2 separate regions of the Homo sapiens genome follow, and region 2 is linked to region 1. Evidence: fine-mapped expression QTL. A gene starts in region 1. The other region holds a variant in brackets. All regions are shown on one strand. Distances are between the middles of the regions.

What was found. PIP is the estimated chance that this variant, and not a neighbour inherited with it, causes the effect. A credible set is the group of variants that fine-mapping cannot tell apart.
Region 2: its variant is the best candidate, but not a certain one, in a credible set for the expression of ARHGAP30 in whole blood (INTERVAL, PIP 0.84).

Annotation. Positions count from the first base shown.
Region 1 is chr1:161,068,545-161,071,450 of GRCh38, forward strand. It overlaps ARHGAP30 (Rho GTPase activating protein 30), which reads right to left and starts at 1,347. Exons shown (of 12, transcript NM_001025598.2): 1 at 984-1,347. The coding sequence starts at 1,080. NECTIN4 (nectin cell adhesion molecule 4) reads right to left here. Exons shown (of 9, transcript NM_030916.3): 9 at 2,454-2,906. RefSeq lists an enhancer at 640-1,186 and a silencer at 1,083-1,232.
Region 2 is chr1:161,034,027-161,036,932 of GRCh38, forward strand. It overlaps the pseudogene GLRX5P2. Among named protein-coding and RNA genes, the nearest start is that of TSTD1, 3.5 kb to the right of the region's middle. RefSeq lists enhancers at 1,127-1,633, 1,634-2,139. The variant A/AT (reference allele first, on the strand shown) is at 1,469.

The sequences.
Region 1 (2,906 bases):
AATGACAGATTGGGGTGGGGTGGAATGGGGTGGAGTGGGGAAAGAATTATGCCTTTCTCTAGGAGGAGCTTGAAGTGCCAAAAACAAGCTGGGCTGGGCAGCCAGGGTGCCTGGGTTCAATTTCAAATTGAATCAAGAAATGATTTTGAGTGGCTGCTCCATGCCAGGCCCCGTTGTGAACCTGATATTGTCCCTGGTCCTTCTGGCTTCAAAGCCCACTCTAAGGTAACCCAGGGAGGGAGCTGGGTGAGCTCCACAGACAGCTCCACACCCACCCTCCTTTGCACCCTCCACCTCCAGCTTCAAGCCAGGCCTCACACCCTCTCTTTCATTCTTCCCCATTTCAGCAGCTTCTCCCCTTGCCCCCCACTTTGAACCTGTTTCTCTTTTGCACAGGGACAACAAGAGAATCACAAAGACTAGGGGCAGAGGTTGTTTCCAGCCCGACATCATCCCCTGCGGCCCAGCAAGGCTGCAGTGGGAACAGAGCCCATGACCTTGTCCTTGGGTGTTCTCCAGCCAGGAAACCACCCGCCTCAAGGGCCATCTTGAGACCCTTCTGGGGCCATTTCCCTGTCTCCTTTCATTCAGACCTAAGGATAATCATTTCCCCTTCAGCCACTCCTCTCCTGACCCTGTCGCCTCACCCTCCCTCTCCTGTTCCCAGTCACCTGCCCGCTGTTTCATCCACTCCTCCTCGGTTTCCAGTCTCTCCATCCTCCCCCTCACTGCTACCTGGGTACTCACATTCTCATCCCCTCAGCCACCCCATCCCCAGAAAGTTACACAAGGGAGCCGCCCTGCCTTCTTCACTGAGCCACATTTCCTGTCTTGCCCACTTACAGTTCTCTTGAATGGTGACCCCAGGCCACTGCCCCTTCCCCAGGAGCACCGGAAACTGCTTCTGCCCTTCAGGCTGGATCGGGCTGCAGATGCCCAGTGCCTCCCCACCCACCCTGCAGAAGCTGAGCCGGCCTCCTTACCCTCCTGGCCTGAGTGCTGCAGGTGCTCCTGCAAGTCGCACCCAAAAACCCGCTCCTTTGCGCTGCCCTTCTTCTTTCCTTTCTGCCGAGACTTCATGGCCAGAGCCCCAGGGCACTGGCCCGGTCACCTCTATCCCCCAAGACCTGTGCCCTACCAGTCCCCCATGGGATCCCAGCCAGCTGCTGGGCTTGGCCCGGCCCCAGGGGGGCAGGGCTCCCAATTGGGGGTGGAGGGTGGCCTGGGCAACGGGCAGCAGCTCCTGCCCCTGGGGCCCCGGCCACACGGAAGTGGCTGTTGAAGAGGAAGCTACCAGGACCCTGGCAAGAAATTGTGTCCTGTGTCTCGTGGCCCAGCCTGGCACTCGCCCTCCTCGCCCCGCTCAGCTTTAGGGGGCAGGAAGCAGTGCAGCTCCTTAACCCACTTCCTGTTAGAGCATCTTTGCAACCACAGGGCCTAGGGTGGGGGAGGTAGCTGACATTCACATCCTCACCCTTTGCTTGGACTTCATTCATTGGTCAGGGGAGGTGATGTCAGAGCCCTGGGGTGGGGTGATGGCGTCTGTGGTGTGAGCAGGTGACCAACTCCCTTAGAGACCAGAATTCTTGGGTCCAAGGTAGAGACCTGGGGCTTGCCTGGGAGCAAGTTGACACAGGGCTGTAAAAAGCACACTCACAAGGGAGGATGCCTGGGTTCTGCCTCTGATGGATCTAGCACCTCAGTCAAATCGCATTACTTCACTGAGCCTCAGTTTCCAAACCTAGGAAAATGAAGGGAGCAGACTAGAGGACCTTTAAATCCTCCCACCTCTAAGAGTCTGTAAAACTCATTTAACTTGAGTTTCAGTTTCTTTACCTGTAAAAAAGGGTACACTGCTGCCTATTTCACATAGCTGTTGTTGAGTCTCCAGTACAATAAGGAATTCAGGCTGGGCGCAGTGGCTCACGCCTGTAATCCCAGCACTTTGGGAGGCTGAGGCGGGTGAATCACCTGAGGTCAGGAGTTCGAGACCAGCTTGGCCAACATGGTGAAACCCTGTCTCTACTAAAAATACAAAAACTAACTGAGCATGGTGACGGGTGCCTGTAATCCCAGCTATACGGGAGGCTGAGGTGAGAGAATCGCTTGAACCTGGGAGTCGGAGGTTGCAGTGAGCTGAGATAGTGCCACTGCACTCCAGCCTGGGTGACAAAGTGAGACTTCATCTCAAAAAAAAAAAAAAAAGGAATTTAAAACACTTTGCAAACTAAGGTACTGGCCATCCTCGAAAGGGTTCTTAGCTTCACTTTCCTACCAGGGGACTCTCAGAGATGGCCAAAGGCCTTGTGGAGGCCAATTCTTTCCCTTCCCTCCCAGCTACAGGCATCCTAAGTCTTCCCCTACTTGGGACTACAGGAAGGATGGTACCGAGACAGAGAGTATGTGACTCAGAGCTTACACAGTTCAAGGGGCAAGACAGGAGCCAGACAGAACAAGTTTTGTCTGTTTATTTAAAAACAGAATATCATTTTATGTACAAATATGCACATATTTACATAAAATGTACATGTTAGGATCTTAGATCTTCAGGCTCCACATTCGAAGTCCTAGGCTGGCTGGGGAACGAAGGATGGGAGCCTCTCCCTTAGGCCAGAAATCCAGCAGATTTCAGACTAAGAAGAGTTTGGGTACTAAATCTAGGTATTCTGGCTGAGTGTATCTGGGTGGGCCAGCTAAAAATAAACCTCATTGAACTCCAGCCCCAACCCAGAGAAACATCCAGAAGAGCCTTGAATTAGTGATCCAAAACCCAGGGGGAAAGGCGACATTCTCACCCCCAGCACCTCCTTCACCTCACCTCAACTCCTACTCTCTCGGTCTATAATCACTGCTCTCTCTCTCCCCAACACCACTATTGAACAGGAGCCCTTGTCACCAGGTCCAAG
Region 2 (2,906 bases), 35 kb before region 1:
AGGGGGTAGGGTGGGATTGACTAGAAAAGGCCACCTAGAGATATTCTGGGGATTTCCATGTTCAAGATTGTGTTTAGGATGGTGGTTACAAGTGAGTATATTCAAAATTCAGTGAATTGAATGCTTAAGAATTGTGCATTTTGGCCAGGCACGGTGGCTCACGCCTGTAATCCCAGCACTTTGGGAGGCCAAGGTGGGCGGATCACCTGAGGTCGGGAGTTCGAGACCAGCCTGACCAACATGGAGAAAACCCGTCTCTATTAAAAATACAAAATTAGCTGGGCGTGGTGACGCATGCCTATAATCCCAGCTACTCAGGAGGCTGAGGCAGGAGAATCACTTGAACCCAGGAGGCGGAGGTTGTGGTGAGCCAAGATCGCACCCTTGCACTCCAGCCTGGGCAACAAGAGTGAAACTCTGTCTCATAAATAAATAAATAAATAAATAAATAAATAAATAAATAAATAAAATAAAGACTATTCTAGTCGAGTGCGGTGGCTCACGCCTGTAATCCCAGCACTTTGAGAGGCTGAGGTGGGCGGATTACCTGAGGGTGGGAGTTTGAGACTGGGCGGATTACCTGAGGGTGGGAGTTTGAGACGAGCCTGACCAACATGGAGAAATCCCATCTCTACTAAAAATACAAAATTAGCCAGGCATGGTGGCACATGTCTGTAATCCCAGCTACTCGGGAGGCTGAGGCAGGACAATCACTTGAACCCCGGAGGCAGAGGTTGCAGTGAGCTGAGATCGCCCCATTGCACTCCAGCCTGGGCAACAAGAGCGAAACTGTGTCTCAAAAACAAAAAAGACTATTCCAACTGGCCCACTATCCTCAATGGATACCTCAATGGCGAGTTTGTGGGGGGCTGTGACATTCTTATGCATATGTACTAGAATGGGTACCTGGTGAAAGAACTGAAAAAGCTGGGGCTCTGTTCTGCCCTTTTAGATTAAAAGAAAGACCAAGACTCCAAGTGAGGGCGCCTGGGCCTCAATGAACAGAGAGGGGGCCGTTCATGTCAGAGACTCCCTGCCAGAAAAGCCTTTCCAATTTTGGTTTTCATTACTGAGACAACAACTGCTTGCACTGATCATTTCAGTTCATGAGCAGTCTAGTGATTTTAGTTTGTCTGGTGTTTGGGTTAAGAATATTTTATTGTGAACTTAATTACAACCACTGCACTGTAATAATTAATGCTATATTATGATATTGTTGCAAACAAAATTCATTCTTATATTGTCATTTATTCTTTGCCCAATTCAGGAGTTAAAGTAGGGGCTTTGAAATCATTATTATTCATGACCCCTCTTGCAGACTGTGTCAGTCTGCAAGGACAGTATCTTCCTCCAAATTTTGTGTAGCTTCTTTTGTTATGGAAAATGGACTAAAAAGAAACTGTGATAACTGGGGCGTTGTTTTTTTAAAATAAACTGCCAACCACAGGGTAAAAAAAGAAAATGGTGC[A/AT]TTTTTTTTTTTTTTTTTGAGACAGAGTCTCGCTCTGTCGCCCAGGCTGGAGTACAGTCTCGTGACCTCGGCTCACTGCAACCTCTGCCTCCTGGGTTCAAGCAATTCTCATGCCTATGCCTCAGCCACCAGAGTAGCTGGGACTACAAGCGAGCACCACCAGGCCTAGCTAATTTTTGTATTTTTAGTAGAGACAGGGTTTCACCATGTTGACCAGGCTGATCTTGAACTCCTGGCCTCAAGAGATCCGCCCGCCTCGGCTTCCCAAAGTGCTAGGATTACAGGCATGAACCACCATACTGGGCCAAGAATTGTGCGTTTTATTGTTAAGTAAATTATGCCAATAATAATAATAAAATGCTATAACCAAATTATAATAAAGACCTGTGGAGGGGAAAACTCGTCTCTACTAAAAACACAAAATTAGCTGGGTATGGTGGCGCATATCTGTAATCCCAGCTACTCGGGAGGCTGAGGCAGGAGAATTGCTTGAACCCGGGAGGCAGAGGCTGCGGTGAGCTGAGATCACGCCATTGCACTCCAGCCTGGGCAACAAGAGCAAAACTCCGTCTCAAAAATAAATAAATGAATGAATGAATGTAGGAGGGCTGGGTATAGTAGAGAAGGCAGAAGGGAAGAAAAGGAGGTGAGAGACAGGCAAGGAATGCAGGAAATGCCTGAAAGAAGTTCTTCAGAGGCATGAAAAATCAGAAAACTGGATTCATTTCTGACTCAATCTTCTCTTCCACAGATTAAGGAATACATTTTCCAAAAATCAAACTTAAGAAGTAAAAACTCTGCCATGAAAATATTTAAAATGTATTATGCATCAAACTATACACTATACTAGAGGGAAGTCATATACCTACTGTGTAGTGCTGAATTTTGTTTCAGTAAGCATGTGTAATTTCATCTTTTTAACCAATTAAATTTTGGTTTTTTTGAGACTGAGTCTCTCTCTGTCACCCAGGCTGGAGTGCAGTGGCACTATCTCAGCTCACTGCAATATCTGCCTCCTGGGTTCAGGCAATTTTCCTGCCTCAGCCTCCCAAGTAGCTGGGACTACAGGTGTGCACCACCACACCTGGCTAATTTTTTTATTTTTGGTAGACATGGGGTTTCACCATGCTGGGCAGGCTGGTCTCAAACTCCTGACCTCAGGTGATCCGCTGCCTTGGCCTCCTAAAGTGCTGGGATTACAGGCATGAGCCACCGTGCCTGGCCAACCAATTAAATTTGTTAAATCCAGTATAAGAGATCAGTGTTGATAAAAACAGAAACCTGAGGCCGGGCGCAGTGGCTCACGCCTGTAATCCCAGCACTTTGGGAGGCCGAGGTGGGCGGATCATGAGGTCAGGAGATCGAGACCATCCTGGCTAACACGGTGAAACCCCGTCTCTACTAAAAAAAAATACAAAAAATTAGCTGGGCGTGGTGG